Regions from separate parts of the Homo sapiens genome. Here regions 2, 3 and 4 are each reported to be linked to region 1. The links are microRNA targets in miRTarBase. Many come from high-throughput screens and were not tested one by one. Region 1 holds a microRNA gene; each other region holds the end of a gene's coding sequence.

Region 1 (4,000 bases):
TGTCTAAACTCCTTAGTTTGGCCTTCTAGGCCTTGCATGATCCACCCTGACCTGCTTCCCTAAAGCACAGACTCCCCATCTGTCTTCCCTGTGGTCCCTGGACTTGGCCTCGTGTCATGTTTCTCTGTCTCTGCTCAGAATGGACTCCTCTTGTCTTCGTCTTCTTGTCCACTTAGTAAATGCTTCTAAACACTCATCTTAGTAAACATTCATCCTGCTCTTTACCCTCATAACATCTGGAACAATCACTTACAGTGAAACAATGACTGTGTTTCACTACATTTTATCACTGTTTATCTATTTGCCTTCCCCATTAGATCATAAGCTACTTAAGGGCAAGAATTCCAGGCAAGTGCACGGTTCACGCCTGCAATCCCAGCACTTTGGCAGGCCAAGGCGGGCTGATCACTTGAGCCCAGGAATTTTAGACCACCCTGGGCAATATGGAGAAACCTCATCTCTACAAAAAATAGAAAAATTAGCCGGACATGGTGGCGCATGTCTGTAGTCCCAGCTACTCAGGAGACTAAGGTGAAAAGATCATCTGAGCCTGGGAAGTTGTGGCTGCAGTGAGTTGTGATCATGCCTCTGTACTCTAGCCTGGGCAACAGAGTGAGACTCTGTCTCAAAAAAAAAAGAGAATTTCATCCATTTCTGTATTTGTATCCATTTCTGTATCCCCAGTGCTTCATACAGTAGGATTTAATATATGCAGGGTGATGAGGGAGGTTAAGTGACTTGCTCAATGCCACACTGAAAATTTAGCACAAAGCCAGGTCTGGAGCAGAGGTGGCTTGACCCTCATTCAAGGCTTTTCAAATGGTGCCACAGACTCTCCTCAGCAGGGCCCCACACTGTCTTCCCATTACAGTGATGACACTGTAGGAAACTATGTGCCCTATCTGGCTTGATCACCTTGTAACCTATGGTGGGAACCTGTGGGTGCTAGACGGCTGGGGCTGAAGTCTGGCCTATGGAATAGAATTCTCACCAGGGTGTCAATTAAGACCTTGTCAATTAGCACAGTGCCTCAACCCCTACACTCTTCATACAAGCCACCATGCTGGTTTGAGATTCCTCTTGAAATCACAGAAACCTATTTCTCCAACACCCATTTCACAACAGTCATTCTAATCATCTTACCTAGGGTTAAGTAAACCAGTCCAAGGGCCTAATTGGGCCTTTCACCTGTTTTGCAAATAAAGTTTTTCTGGAAAACATCCATGCTCATTTGTTTATATATTCTCTGTGGCTGCAGATTTGAGTGGAGACCCTATGTCCAGCAAAGCGTAAAATACTATCTGGCCTTTATAGAAAAAGTTTTGCAGACCTTTGGATCTAGCCCAAAAAACAGGGAATCAAGACTGCAAACAGCCCCTCCCTTCTACCAAGGGACTGGCTGCCCCTACTCTGGAAGTTAGTGAACCAACTGGCTTTTGAATGAAGTCATTTCTTTTTTTAGCCCTGGTTACAGGCCTGGGATCCAGGAGGAGATTTTGCCTGTCAGAGGCACACAGGGACCTGCAACACCTAGCACATGGCCTGGCACATAATGGCACTCAATTAATGTTTACTGAATAAATAAACAAAGACATGAGAAATCAGCCAGGCTGAGCCTCGAACAAAAGTCCATACTCCTCCTGTCAGTTTCAAGGTGGCCAGTCACACAGGTACCTGGCAGCAGCCGGGTGACCTAGATTTGTCAGACCTTATCTTATTGGCTTTCCTTTCTCGTGTATTTACCCAGCACCTGCCCCCACGATGCTCAGAGCAGGTTGGCCTCTTGTTTTTATAGAGAAAGAGATGGACAGGGAGGAACTCTCCTCCCACACAGACACACTTTGTGTTTTTTCTTTTTTTCTCCCGCTGCGGGAAGAATCAAGAAATATGGGGGCTTCGAGCTTCAAAAAGCTCCATGAAGTCTAGTTTCACTGGCTTCCTCTCTCCTCAGGCTTCCTAGGTGAATGTTTCTGGCATGAACCTTAACGGCCCTCTCAGAGTTGTACCTGTCGTTTGGAACATTTGGCATCTGAAGGGGAAAGGCCAGCTGTGGATAAAGCTGGCAGCTTTCAGAAGGTCAGGAATGTAAACAAAGCAGCCCCCACCCAGTGGGGAGAGGCCTGGTCCTGAGAATACAGACATTCCTCCAAAGATGCATCAGAGAACAAGGGGCTGCCCGACTCGGCTGGGCTAGCTCAGGCCGACTCTGCAGGGGAGGACAGGGACCATCAGGGAAACAAAAGGCACTTCAGCCTCTCATGAAAATTAGGCAAACTGAATGGAAAGCACTATGGAAATGCTGGTTTTTCAGCTGCCCCGGATAACCTTAGGGGCCAGGCTCAGGAAGGAGATCCTTGTTGCTGCTGCCACCAACCGCTTTTTCAGGTGCTGGGTCTTCCAGGAACCAAAGGGTACCGTGTGACAGGCTCAGTGAAGGCAAAGCTTGCATCTGTTTGCCACTGTAATTCCCAGGGTCTAACACGTAAGAGGAGCTCACACAATGTGGAATAAATGACAGGGCCCTCTGCAGGAGGGTTTGCTCAGGGATTTTTTGTTTTGGTGAGGAAACACTTTTCTGTTTCCTCATTTATCTGCTGGGACGCTAAGGTCACAGTTAGCTTCCCAACAGATAAATGAGGAAACAGAAAATTGCTCTTGGTGGAGCCAACCCTAACAAGAAGGAAAAGGAGCTCCTGGGCCCCCAAAGATAGAGAATTTTCCTTTTGATGATCATAATTTACCCCTTCAAAGACCCAAAGGTGTCAGGGGCTAAAGGGGAGGGGAGAACTAGTGCCACCTGCTCCACCTCTTGACATCACTGTAGTCTGGAGGGGAGGGAGTTTATGGACTGATTAGATGTTGTTGTTTCTAGCGGCAGCTGGCAGAGCCATCTCCTCCTCTCTTCCTCTCCCCCTCCTCCTCCAACTCACTGTCCAGCCACCAGCAATAAGCCAGGGAGAGGAGGGAAACAGCTAAAGCTCCCCTTGGCTGGGCAGCCCTTACCCCAGAGATAATACTCTGGGTCACCAGGTCAAACCCTCCTCTCAGCAGCTTTGCTGAGTGCTTTGGAAACAAAGGTTATCAGAGATTCTCTTTTGGTTTTGTTCTTTCAAGATAAAGAAAGTGGTTTCTTTCAAAAGATTCCCCCCCACCCGAAGTGTCACAGAAGGAATCAAACTGACAAGCAACTCTCAGCTCCAGCTTCACTCTCCAGGCCAGGGACTTCTCTTCCAGCCGCCTGGGCTGCTGTGTCACAGCCAACTGAGGTCCTCGGGTGGGTCAGAGGCACAGTAACCACCTGACAGACTAAAAGGGAAGGAGGCAGGGACAGGCTTTTCCATTTACATTCTAGAGAGGCTTCGCTGCTGCCTGCAGGTAAGGCCCCAGAAAGCTGTGGTGGAAGGTGCTGCTGCTATTTCATCACCTCCTGAGACCTGCTGGTCCCCCTGGGATAAGGAACAAGCGATTCCATGAGGAGAGGCCTCAAAAGACGACAGATGACAACTGTAGGGCTCAAGGGCAACTGCTGAGACTCTCCAAAAACAAGGGCAACAAGCAAGAGTGCCAGGCTTGTTGGGGTGCCAGGCCCTAGTTCTGTCACTTTCCATTTGGTTTTCTTTAGTGACTATTCATAGAATAACACTAGCTTCCAACATTTATTGAGCACTTATCACGTGCCAGGCCCTGTGGTAAGAACTTCACATCAATAACCTCATTTAATTTCCACAAAAATCCTATCAGGTATCTAATATTACTATTATTCCCATTTGCCAGTGAGGCCATTAAGACGCAAAGGCGGATGGGCGCAGTGGCTCATACCCGTAATCCCAGCACTTTGGGAGGCCGAGGCCAGTGGATCACCTGAGGTCAGGAGTTCGAGATCAGCCTGGCCAACATGGCGAAACCCCATCTTCTACAAAAAATGAAATAAACAAATAAATAAATAAATAGCCGATGTGGTGGCAGGCACCTGTAATCCAGCTACTTGGGAGGCTGAATA
Region 2 (4,217 bases), not on the chromosome of region 1:
AGCCCTGCTCATCTCCTATAGAACCATGTCCGCAATTGTCATGGCTTCTGCTTTTATGGAAACCCCTGAACTAGATCAAAACAAGACCCCATGAAGCTAACACCTTGCTTCTTTAAGAATATTGCTTTACTCAATTTCTTTTCGAATTTCATAGAAAATAGTTTTGTAAATTTTGTTCTGTTAAAGAAGTTGAAAAGAATTAAAGAAGGCAGGAAGTCAGAGTTTGACTTCCCCTGGGCCAGTTAAGAGCCAAATAACCTCGGGCCAGTTCCTTCCTCTCTGTCTCCCCACGTGTAAGATACAGGGGCTGGCACAGGGGTCCCCAGGCCTTTCCAGCTCTGAGGTAGAATGCCAGAGACTGCAGCAATGGGCCTTTTCTCTCTTAATGCCTCCGCCTCTCTGTCCCCTCACAGCTACGTACAAGCCAGAGCTTCCAGGAAAGCAGTCCTTCCTCTACAACGAGGACAAGAAATGGATCCCGGTTCTGTAGGGATGTCACACAAGGTCAAGGAGAACTCCAGCCACCAGCCCACCCTGCCCAGCGTCCCCAGGACATTCCTCAGGAGGAGACCGATCATGAGTGTGGCAGCTGACAACTTGGGGGGTGGCTCTACCACTCTGGCCTGGCATCCTAGCCGGACTGCTGCCATTGCCTTTGTCTTGAGCTGGAGACATTGCTCCCTGGAGACTTCACCCCAGCCCCACAGACTCCAGTGGCTTCCTGAGCAGAAGGGAGGAGTGGACAGAGCCCCCTGGCTGCTTCCCCACGCACCCATCCAGGCTGCCTTCCGGCACGACTCCCTGCCGCAGACTGAAGGGACTCCTGAAGCGCAGACTTCAAGGAGGATCAGTCCACCCTGAAGGTGGCCAAGCCTGGAAGCCCCACCCTTCCCTGTTTCATTCCTTCATTCATTTACACATTCATTCATTCCCTCACTCCTGCCTTTCTCATTTGTCCCTTTCTGACCTCACTCACTTACGGTATGTCTACTGGGCGAAAGCTACCTGCAGGCAGGTGATGCTTTTTCCACCAGTCCACAGCTTCCTTTCTAAAGTGACCACCTGTTTGGAAAGACCTCTCTTTACTCCTTTTAGACCTTTTTCTCTTTGGAGTGGGAGATCATCTTGGAATGGCAGTGGCCGGGCCCGGGGGCTGCGCTTTTCCCTGACTTTCTCTGCTGGCGGGACTGAATTTTCTCAAGGCTTACAGGCCCTTCCATGGAGTCCACATGGCCTGTCTAGGCCTGATAGCTTTCGTCTCTCTATGTGGAGGGAAAAAGAAATGTGCCCTAGTGGTTTTGGTGGAGGCTGCACAGATTCGCGGTGGGTGGGGAGCTGCCAGGCTCCTTTTCTGATCTCCCAGCAGGCTTTGACTGACGCTGTTTAGTCTTTCTGTACATTAACCCCGCCAGATACCGAGAGGTTACAAAGCCTCCAAGGCCTGTACAACTGTGGCCTCTCCAGAGAAGTGGTTCTCAGCCTTGACTGCACACTGTAATCACCTGGGGACTTTAAAAAGTACTGAGGCCTGGGGCCCACCCACAAATGCTGATTTAACTCCTCCAGGGTGGGGTCTGGGCAGTGGGGAGGCAGGAGCCACCCAGGTGATTCCAATGATAGGTGTAGGTTGAGAAGCGCCACCTTCCAGCTTCCTAACTGGCTCTGGGAGGGGAGCTGGGTGGGAAGTTCAGGAGGTGGGAACTTTGTACACGCAGAGCACCTGGAGCACCTACAGCATGGCTGTGGTTCCACACTCCTCTGTCATTTAACCTTCACACATCACCTCGTTCTGACATCAAGGGTGCGTCACAGCCACAGTGAGGCCTCGCCTGGGCAGAGCAACTCTGGGTGCCCCACTGGGTCCCTCCCACAGGGGCAGGCAAGCCTAATGGGAACCCGAGGCAAAAGGAAACATCAGTAATACGAATCCTGTCTTTAAAACTGTGATGTTTTGTTCACCATGGATTTTTTTTTTGGGGGGGGGGGCCTTAATTTTAAAAATATTGCATTAAACTTATTTATCTTGCTTATTGAGCTTTTGGGTACCCCTTAATTTTTGTGCCTTAGGCTAGAGACTCACCTGCCCATAGCCTTGACTCTAGGTAGGGGCTTGGGAATTAGGACCACAGACTGTCAGCGCTGGGAGGTTCTTAGAGGGATCATGGTTTTCACACCTTTTTAAAAAAAGTTTTACTCAGACAGATGTTTACGAGAAACCCAAATATTTAAGTGGAGAGAAGCAGAGCTGCAGTGATGGAGTTAGGGAGGGTACGCAGGGACTGCTGCAGCCCCTTCCTCGCATTGTAGTGGCCTTGGAGACCCACCAGTGAGCCCTGAGGCTCTGAAGATGATAATTACAAACAACCAACAGAGATCATGACCTGCATTTTATAGCCAAAGAAACTGAGGGCTACAGGTAGCAGTGGCTGGTAAGTCTGCTCTCCCAAAGGAAGAAAGACCCACTTCAACTTGGCAGCTTAAAAAAGATAAATGTGGCCGGACACGGTGGCTCACGCCTGTAATCCCAGCACTTTGGGAGGCCGAGGTGGGTGGATCATGATGTCAGGAGATCGAGACCATCCTGGCTAACACGGTGAAACCCCATCTTTACTAAAAATACAAAAAATTAGCCGGGCATGGTGGTGGGCACGTGTAATCCCAGCTACTCAGGAGGCTGAGGCAGAATGGCGTGAACCCGGGAGGCGGAGCTTGCAGCGAGTCGAGATCGTGCCACTCCACTCCAGCCTGGGCGACAGAGCCAGACTCCGTCTCAAAAAAACAAAAAAAAAGATAAATGAGGCAATGGAGGAACTGATCTAAAAGAGACAAAAACTGGCCAGGTGCAGTGGCTCACGCCTGTAATCCCAGCACTTTGGGAGGCTGAGGCGAGTGGATCACAAGGTCAGGAGTTCGAGACCAGCCTGGCCAATATGGTGAAACCCCGTCTCTACTAAAAATACAAAAATTAGCCAAGCGTGGTGTCAGGCACCTGTAGTCCCAGCTACTCAGGAGGCTGAGGCAGGAGAATCGCTTGAACCCGGGAGGCGGAGGTTGCAGTGAGCCAAGATCATGCCACTGCACTCCAGCCTGGGTGACAAAGCGAGGCTCCATCGCAAGAAAAAAAAAAAAAAAAAGATAAATGAAAAGAAAGCAAGCCTGAATCTGTGATTTGTTCTCTAAGGAAAATAAAGGCCTTGATTTGTAGCATTTGTCAATTTCTGACTGTCACCATGGCTGATTTCAATGTGCCAACATGACCACACTCCTTCAGAGTTGGGAAGAGATACCTGCAATTGCTTCTGTGAGCTGTAGGAGCTGGCTGCAGGGAACGTGGCTTGGCCTAGAGAGTAGGCGCAGAGCTGGCACAAGACTCAGGTCATGTGGCTCCCAGCCTTGGGTGCTGCCTGATGGCCTCAGCTGTGAGGTCCTCTTCAAGCTCATTCTACACCCTTCCCAGGACTTTCTCTGCAGAGTCAATGATCCTGAGGCTGTAACATTCAAACACAAACATCTGGGCATCAGGAATCTGCTGCCTTCCAGAGGGGGCACCTCTGCTCCACCGGTGCCCTGCACGTCCCAGCATCCTTCAAGTCCAGGGCAACCCGTTCTCCGCACAGAGCCAGAGCGAAGGGAGAAAGAGGAGCGAGGCCCCGACCAATGTAGCCATCTCTTTCCAGCAGACTCTCCCAAAAGGAACGAGAGCAGCATGTGAAGTAATGTGACGTAATACATAGATAGATTTTTATTACTAAATACCACGTGAGTATACAAAATGCATCACTGAATAACAGCTAAAAAAAGTCCAAGAAATGTGAAATACACATTTTTTGAAATGATAAAAACATATCCATGAAAAATATAAAATGTTGCATATATATACAGTATATTTATATATATATATAACAAATGAAAATCGTAAATAAGAAATGTATACAACAGTGAGTGGCAAGGCAGTAGTTTTACACAGCGGTCACTTTGTTCCAGTCGATCGTTAGTGCTATTTACATCCTGCGCTGAGGAAGTCTGAGAAAGAGACTCCAATATAGTGTCTTTTAAAAGTCATTTGCACTGAAAATCAAGAGTTTTCAAGTTAACTGACCAAAGGTTGAGAAATCCTTTGTCTGAAGTTGAAGGAAGACAGAGAGTGGGGGCCGCACCAGCTGGCGTGGTGCTGCGGGAGGGAGCGTGTGCCGCCACCATCTTAACGGGCAGCCTGC
Region 3 (4,217 bases), not on the chromosome of region 1:
TACCTGCTATTGTTAATTTTCTTTTTTTGTTTTGTTTTGTTTTGGAGATGGAGTCTCGCTCTGTTGCCCAGGCGGGAGTGCAGTGGTGTGATCTCCATTCACTGCAGCCTTGCCTTCCGGGTTCAAGCAATTCTCCTGCCTCAGCCTCCCAAGTAGCTGGGACTACAGGCCTGCGCCACCACGCCCAGCTAATTTTTATGTTTTTAGTAGAGACAGGGTTTCACCATGTTGGTCAGGCTGGTCTCGAACTCCTGACCTCTAGTGAGCCGCTGCACCTGGCCCTGATAATTTTCTTTGTCAACCAACCTGATCTATATCTCCATCACTGAATTGCCCTGGACTTACAAGATGAAGAAGGAATTGCAGCTGTGTTGTTTCTTGCTTCTTTCCCAGTTCCCTGAGATGAATGAGGTCTGTCAAGAGGATGAAAGGAAGGGCAGCATCTTGATTCCATTTATCATCCAGAACCTGGGCCTCCTGACTGGATTCACCATCATGGTGGTCCTCACCATGTATTCAGGACAGATCCAGATTGGGTAGGGCTCTGCCAAGAGCCTGTGGGACTGGAAGTCGGGCCCTGGGCTGCCCGATCGCCAGCCCGAGGACTTACCATCCACAATGCACCACGGAAGAGGCCGTTCTATGAAAAACTGACACAGACTGTATTCCTGCATTCAAATGTCAGCCGTTTGTAAAATGCTGTATCCTAGGAATAAGCTGCCCTGGTAACCAGTCTCTAGCTAGTGCCTCTTGCCCTCTCCTCACCTCCTTTTCTCTCAGTGACTCTGGAACCTGAATGCAGCTTACAAGACAAGCCTGACTTTTTTCTCTGATTACCTTGGCCTCCTCTTGGAACCAGTGCTGAAAGGTTTTGAATCCTTTACCCAACAATGCAAAAATAGAGCCAATGGTTATAACTTGGCTAGAAATATCAAGAGTTGAATCCATAGTGTGGGGCCCATGACTCTAGCTGGGCACCTTGGACCTCCAGCTGGCCAATAGAAGAGACAGGAGACAGGAAGCCTTCCCATTTTTTCAAAGTCTGTTTAATTGCCTATTACTTCTCTCAAAGAGAACCTGAAGTCAGAACACATGAGCAGGGTGAGAGGTGAGGCAAGGTTCATCCTGAATGGGAGAGGAAGTCGAACCACTGCTGTGTGTCTTGTCAGGATGCTCACTTGTTCCTACTGAGATGCTGGATATTGATTTTGTAACAGCACCTGGTGTTTCACGGCTGTCCGAGTGAGCTAACGTGGCGGTGTGGCTGCCTGGACCTCCTCTTTCAGGTTAACGCTGACAGAATGGAGGCTCAGGCTGTCTGCAAGAAAACAGTTGGTTTGGCTGTGATTTTGACCTCCTCTTCCCCACTGCCATCTTCTAAGAGACTTTGTAGCTGCCTCCTAGAAGCACATTCTGAGCACATTTGAGACCTCTGTGTTAGAGGGGAGACTGCACAAACTATCCTCCCCCAGGTTGAGACGTCTGCAGAGTGGCAAGCTGACTTGTAGAAATGGGGTGCCATTTATGCTCTACTTAGACAAGGGTAATCAGAAATGGAATCAGTGCAGGCAAAATTTAGGATTTGCCGCTTCCATAAATCAAAGCATGACTAATAGGGGGTCTCTGAAATGTAAGGGCACAAACTTCACTTAGGGCATCGCAGATGTTTGCAGAATGGTTGGCCTAATGATTATGCTACAGATGGGTTTTAAATGACCCGTCTAGGTTACTGCTTCCTTGCAAAAAAAGTCGAATCCTGCATTGAATTGAATATGAATTTCTCTAACTCTCTCCAGAAAATGGATGGAGATAACTTGTCTTTAAAACTGTAGGCCAGCCTTAGCCACTGTGGAGCCCTTGCCTCCGAGCTCTGGCTTCAAGGGGAGCTCTTCTCCAGGTTCACTAGGTGAATTGATTTATTATTATCATATTGATAATGTGAGATTCTTTAGCCACTTTGGGGAGCCTGTCTCTCCAGAAGCCTTTCTTAGTGGTGCCCACAGTTGGAGCCCAGGGGCCATGTTTGCAAACTGATTCATGTGCATGGCTGACAGGAGTACTGGTTCACTACCAATGCCTGAGCTTTTCTCTTACATAGAAAAACTGTCCGCTCTCAGTAATCACAAGCAGCATCCGTTTTGTTTTCTCTTCTTGGGAGACATCTGTCAAACCAGGAATATTCTTGAAAAGAACGTGAGCAGGAAAAACTGCTGGTGATACTTTTTTTAAGTTTTGTTTTTATCTTGCCTGTTGGCTTCAATACATTTGAGAATACGCTGAAGAGGGAAAATTTCAGTGATGGAGATTCTAGATTAAATATCAGGACTGATTTCCTGGTGGGATTATGGTCCAGTTTTACCAAAGAACCAATTCCTTGAATGTTGGAATCTAACTTTTTATATTGTCATTATTATTGTTGTTTTTAAACGGTTCTTTGTCTTTTCTGTTTTATTTTTCTCAAGCTGCTTTCAGGAGCTAGCAGAAAATAACTCAAAGTTGAAGACTCTGGAAGATTTTGCTTTAACCTAACTCGCATTGATGTATTAAATTTATAATTTTAGCATTCCCAATAGATCCTATCATTCCTTAAACATAATACCCTTTGTCTTGGAGTAGAATACTAAGTTAGAGTTAGTGGATTTCTAGTTTAGGAGAGGAGCTCAAAACTATAATCTTTAACAAATTGAAAAATGAAATAGGGTGTTTTCCCTTTTTGTGCACACCTATATTACCTTAAGAAATTTCCTTCCATAGACAGCTGCCTCAAAGGGAAATCCTCTTTAAACCGTAGTTGGCGCAGAGGTCAGTCCTAGTCGGAGCTTAGGAGGGGCGGAGACGCTCACATCGTCTGACTTGAGTCGCCACTGATTGTGGCAACAGCTTTGCCTCATGAGTCAAAAATTGGCAATTTCTTTTGATTTTTAGTTGTTGAATTTGCTGTTTCAAGCATTTGTACATATTAGAAGTCTAAGGAGTAGCAAGTCAGTGGGAGGACTTTTTCACCCCTGGCATTAGCAGCTTCGACCTCATTTTCCAGATGCACCAGCTCCTATTAATAAGTTAGCAAGGAAAGTGTATGTCACGTGCAGGAACAGTGAGGCAGGGACAGGGGTTCTGCTCCTTCTCACTTCACCACCGGCACACAGCTTGCCCCTGTCTTTGCCCCCAAAGGTATTTTGTGTCTAGTGTCAAATTGGAGCTATTCTTCACTGGTCCTTAACCTTGGGTTTTAAAAAGAAGGCTTCTCTGTTTGGGTAGCGTAAGAGCTGAGTATAGTAAGTCCTCTTCCAAAGAGATGGCAATATGCTGGGCATCTACTTTAAAACAAAGTTGTCTGATTTTTGCAAGAGAGGTTAGGATTTTATTGTTCTTATTTCCCTTTACAGTTCTGCAGTTCCATCACAGTATTTTTTTAAATAACTCAGGTGTATGAGAAGAAATTAGAAAAGAAAATTAACTTATGTGGACTGTAAATGTTTTATTTGTAAGATTCTATAAATAAAGCTATATTCTGTAATTGTTGAGAATCCCACGGGTGATCATTTGCAATAAATGTGGATGTAATGAAGGCTGTTGAACACAAGGTGGCGATGGTGTCTCACTGACGTACAAAGTTTTGTTTTACCAGGTCTGGTTTAACATTTGACTGGGATTTTAGAAGGTTTTTTTTGTTGTTGTTATTGAGACAGAGTTTTGCTCTTGTCGCCCAGGCTGGAGTGCAGTGGTGCGATCTCGGCTCACTGCAACCTCCACCTCCTGGGTTCAAGCGATTCTCCTGCCTCAGCCTCCCGAGTAGCTGGGATTACAGGTGCCCGCCACCACGCCTGGCTAAATTTTGTATTTTTAGTAGAGATGGGGTTTCGCCATGTTGTCCAGGCTGGTCTCGAACTCCTGACCTCAGGTGATCTGCCCGCCTTGGCCTCCCAAAGTCTTGGGATTACAGGCTTGAGTCATTGTGCCAGGCCAAGAAGGAAACTTTTGTACTCTCTTCTCTTTTCTTTCTTTGAGACAGTCTCACTCTGTCACCCAGGCTGGAATGCATTGGCACGATCTCGGTTCACTGCAGCCTCCGCTTCCTGGGTTCAAGCGATTCTCATGCCTCAGCTTCCTAAGTAGCTTGGACTACAGGCATGTAGTACCATGCCCAGCTAATTTTTGAATTTTGTTGTTGTTGTTGTTTTGTTTTTTTTTTTTTGAGACGGAATCTCACTCTATTG
Region 4 (4,217 bases), not on the chromosome of region 1:
GACCTGCCATCAACAACAGTGTAGGGGATGAAGCAAAATTTAAAAGGTACGATTTTGTAAGAGTTATGTTCTTTGAATATGCTCAGGGTTAGAAATCCAAGAGTGCAGCCTTATTTAAGAGTATCTGGCTAAAAGGTAAAGTAGATAAGAAGTAATCAGAAGTCTCCCTGGTTGAATTCCTCAGTGCATGATTAATCTGATGGCAACCAATGTCAAGGAGCACCCTAAAATATGCATTGGGTAAATTCAGAAGCAGACACGTTAAAATTTGGTAAAACAATAGCAGAATTTAAGGGGTTGGCAACTCAAGTCCTCTGTAGGTGCTAGGAAAAGCAAGAAGGTACAGATTCTAGAACTCTTTATTTAGACTAGGTATGGTGCGAGTGAAAACCATCACTCCATCAAGGCAATTTTTATTTTAAAAAATTACAGAAAGAACAAAGAACTAAAAGAATTTTAATAAAATGAGCAAGTTTACATTTGTACATTTTGTGTATCTGGGACCCAATCGGGACAAAGGATAAAGTTGCAAGGACAAAGGTTTCTGTGGGAGAGCAAGCAAAAAGCAAGGGCTGCCCCAGTTGCATCATGGGCATCCATTCAGAGCTGGGACCCCGCAGCCACCTGCCTGTGCTCCGGAAGTGAGAAGCACATGTAAGCACGCGTCAGTGAGAGCGTCGCAGTTGAACTCAGCCCAGTGCAACGCAGCCTGAGTGACATCCCTACATTAATACTTGATAGGGAACAGCAGATAAACAGTTCCAAAAACCAAATGGTATTGCCCATAGAATATGAATGTAAACTGAGTTCAGTTCATGCTGTTTTAACCAGAATGGTTCCACTGAACCTAATGAGGGGAAAAAGGTCTGATGGATCTAATTGCTCTATTCGATGGCACAGTTACAAATCAGCAGGCCTGTGAGAAAGAACCATACATTTCTCTCAGAAATATGATTTGAGAAAAGGGCCTTGTAGGAGTGAGAGAAAGGTTAGAGAAAAGTACAGTTTTAACATATGAGACAATTCTTCATACTGTAATAGAATGCTGCTTGTGGTGAAGGATTTGGTAGAGATGGAAAACTGCTCAACTTTAATTCCCATTATTCTAAAGGATGACAAACATTTTAGAGTATTGATCAATGTTCAGTGAAAAAATAAAAATGACTAGTGTTGGCTGGGCGCAGTGGCTCACGCCTGTAATCCCAGCACTTTGGGAGGCCGAGGCAGGCAGATCACGAGGTCAGGAGACCGAGACCATCCTGGCCAACATGGTGAAACCCCGTCTCTACTAAAAATACAAAAATTAGCTGGGCGTGGTGGCATGCACCTGTAGTCCCAGCTACTCGGGAGGCTGAGGCAGCAGAATCGCTTGAACCCAGGAGGTGGAGGTTGCAGTGAGCCGAGATTGCGCCACTGCACTCCAGCCTGGGTGACAGAGTGAGACTCTGTCTGTGTGTTAGGAATGAGAAATTACTAAGTTTTTTCAAGATTTTACCCATTTTGTGTACAGAGAAATAAGCTTTTAATGGCGCAATGTTGCATATACGGGTAACTTGTTCTTTGAGAAATATAAACTCAAACTCACAAGTTGTCATGATAACATATGCAGTAATATGACCATTCTACAACAGAGTCACCCACAGGTAAAACACATGACTGGGCTTTGAGCTCACACCAATTTACACAGCATACAGTTGTGCTACAAGGAGAATTTCTTCATCATTTATTCTTTAGTTAATTGAAACATAGTCAGGAAAAAATGGTGCCAATTCCCCCCAAACAACACATGGATGTTTTTGCTTCTTGACCCACTTAGAGTCCCAAAAGGACAAAAAATACATGGACCAATATTAGTTCACGAAACATGTTTTAAAGAACAGAGAATGAGGTCTTCATCCCACCTCAGTAAGGCTTGGGCTGATGAAGAGAGGGTGTATTCAGGGTCCTCTCTTGTCATATGTACAAGCTGACGCTTGTTTCCCAAGCATGATAGTAGTGGGTAGACTGCCTTTATTGTTAGCCCCTAATAGAATCAGTCAGCACAATGAAGAAATTCCAAAGAGGGCAGTGAAGTGACAACAGCTTCAGCTCGTCATCGATGTTATACAGAAACACAAAAGGAATCCCCGGCCTGTGATGAAGGAGAGGCCGTTGCTGTGTGTTCAGGACACCTCAGAGCAGGCACATAAAGTGCTGGAGGGTGACACAGCCTGTCTGGATGTCCTCGGGAGGGTGTGCCATCCAGGAGGCGACACCCCCATCCAGCACACGGGCCCTTCCACCCGCTGTCGGTCCTGCTAAAGGTACGAGGCTAAAACCGGCCTCTCCAGAAAAGAACGCTCAGTGTGTGCTGACCACACTTCCCTTTGAATTTCCCGAGTATTCAACAGGAGATACATTTTAACAAGAAAAAATACCCCTAACAAACAGGACAGATGACTCTCTCAACAAGAGAGCAACTACGAACATGATACAAATTTAAATAAAAATGTTTAGTTCAACGTGTTCGTCATGGAGTTTCAAATCAGCAGATGCCATGACAGGAAAGGAGCACACAGCTGGGCCCTTGCCCGCCGTGGGTTTCCCGTGTCCGCGGCTTCTTCAAGGAGGGGAGAGCAGCTTCTCTCTTGGAGCGTTCTCAGTTTCTCAACAGATCTTCACTTGCTAGGCAGCCAGAAGCATTAGTTCACCCAAGAGTGAGTGCTTGGGTACACAAGGCAGAATCTTTTGGGAGCTGAGAGCCGGAGAGGAAGAAAGAAGGAACAAAGGTACTTCTCCAGGGTCAGCCGTTTCTGAGGGCAAAGGCAGAGCCCACGAGGTAACCCTGGGAAATGGGCCCATGAGTGAGCGGCGTGGATGGAGAACGTGTTTCTGCAGGAGGGCAAGGCTGACCCCCATGAGGCTCTGTGCCCTCGCCACTCACCCAGGCAAGAGAGGACTTTGTCGCCAGCCATGGTGAAGCCACGTTTCCAGTGCAAACATGAGTCTAAAGGTTGGAGTGTGGGGGTGGTGGGGGATCCCCCACCTGGGTCTGGACTGCATGAGGAAGACTCCCTTTTTTTTTTTTTCAAAGTAGACCTCTGTCTTGGATTACTATGTACCTGGACAGGTGAACTCTTGTATGTTTCTGTTTTGGGGATTTTTAGGGGTTTTCCATGTACATTCATAGAGCCTGGTCATTCCATGTACATTCATAGAGCCTGGTCAGCAGCGAGGAGTCCTTGTTGCGTATGGACGGAAGGCTCCCTGGCACCCAGATGTCTCCCTTCGTCCTGGCTGACACAGAGCATGGTGGTCATCTGCTCTTCATGTCCAGCAGGCTCAGAAAGAACTCGGAGTTCCCCTCGCACCCTTGGGCCAAGCTTTTCAAGTCCGAGTGCCAGGACTGGATGAGCTGGGGTTTGTGTGTCTGCTGGCGGCACAGTGGGTGTGCACAAGACCACCATTTGGGTATCTAACAAACACAGGCTCACAAAAGGGATTTTGGCATATCTGACAAAGCTTTTTGTCTGAGAGTTGGATTGAGCTTCCTTTCAACTTCATCTGCAAGAAGAAACCAAGACTGAGAATGCTGTCATGTGTTAAGTATATTTAAAGTGGCTACGTTCTAGTTTTGCAGAGTTGACATGCATTACTCCATGGGTTATTATTATGATGAGGATTTCTTTAATATCAACTTCTTGAAATGAAATGCTAAAGGTGTAAATAAAACCATCCTTAGTAACTGGACAAGGAAGAAAGTTACACAATTGCTTTTCTTATTTCACAAAAGTAATTGTTGCTTGTCTGGCTGAGGCATTTCTACTTAAGATCCTCTCTCCAACATTCTCTGGCTCTGATCATTTCAAGCAAGGCCTGTTAGAAAGTCATGAATGTTAATGCTGAATGAGACCATATAATAGTGTAACTCCAGGGTTCTCTCATTTGCAAATAAGAAAAGTAAAGCACAAACAAATAAGGGATGTAGTCAAAGTTACACAGCTAACAAGTGGCATATTCCTGGTTGGTCCTGGGAGACACCCTTCCGTTTCCTTAGAGGTAACTGGTGAAACTGAGTCTTAATGCCATCGGTCCCTGTCTGATCAACAGGACTTGAGTTCTGAAAGTTATAAAGTTTTTCTACACAATTCACTCGTGTCAACCGAGGCAGGTTGGTCTATTGGCAGGATCAAGCAGCAACTTAGCGATTCATCCTGCACTCCTTAGTTGCATCAGTC

What was found. The annotated mature microRNA hsa-miR-4729 reads UCAUUUAUCUGUUGGGAAGCUA and lies in region 1 at 2,616-2,637, opposite strand. An mRNA with a match to its seed (bases 2 to 7 or 8) in the 3' UTR can be bound and repressed. Matches are read on the target gene's strand: a 7mer-m8 pairs with bases 2 to 8, a 7mer-A1 pairs with bases 2 to 7 and ends in A, and an 8mer does both.
Region 2: miRTarBase lists STPG1 as a target of hsa-miR-4729. The part of its 3' UTR that is shown has no 7-base or 8-base seed match.
Region 3: the mRNA of SLC39A14 is a reported target of hsa-miR-4729. Seed matches in the 3' UTR shown: 7mer-A1 at 1,710-1,716 and 7mer-m8 at 3,549-3,555.
Region 4: the mRNA of TGFBRAP1 is a reported target of hsa-miR-4729. Seed matches in the 3' UTR shown: 8mer at 1,720-1,727.

Annotation. Positions count from the first base shown.
Region 1 is chr17:59,364,729-59,368,728 of GRCh38, reverse strand. It overlaps MIR4729 (microRNA 4729), which reads right to left and starts at 2,646; the gene lies at 2,575-2,646. The region is part of intron 2 of YPEL2 (yippee like 2); the gene reads right to left. RefSeq lists a silencer at 687-981 and enhancers at 1,538-2,307, 2,308-3,077.
Region 2 is chr1:24,354,816-24,359,032 of GRCh38, reverse strand. It overlaps STPG1 (sperm tail PG-rich repeat containing 1), which reads left to right. Exons shown (of 9, transcript NM_001199013.2): 9 at 414-2,034. The coding sequence ends at 490. It overlaps GRHL3 (grainyhead like transcription factor 3), which reads right to left. Exons shown (of 16, transcript NM_198173.3): 16 at 3,715-4,217. Among named protein-coding and RNA genes, the nearest start is that of GRHL3-AS1, 35 kb to the right of the region's middle.
Region 3 is chr8:22,419,159-22,423,375 of GRCh38, forward strand. SLC39A14 (solute carrier family 39 member 14) reads left to right here. Exons shown (of 9, transcript NM_001128431.4): 9 at 394-3,578. The coding sequence ends at 540. Among named protein-coding and RNA genes, the nearest start is that of PPP3CC, 20 kb to the right of the region's middle.
Region 4 is chr2:105,264,017-105,268,233 of GRCh38, forward strand. TGFBRAP1 (transforming growth factor beta receptor associated protein 1) reads right to left here. Exons shown (of 12, transcript NM_004257.6): 12 at 398-3,543. The coding sequence ends at 3,367. Among named protein-coding and RNA genes, the nearest start is that of GPR45, 24 kb to the left of the region's middle.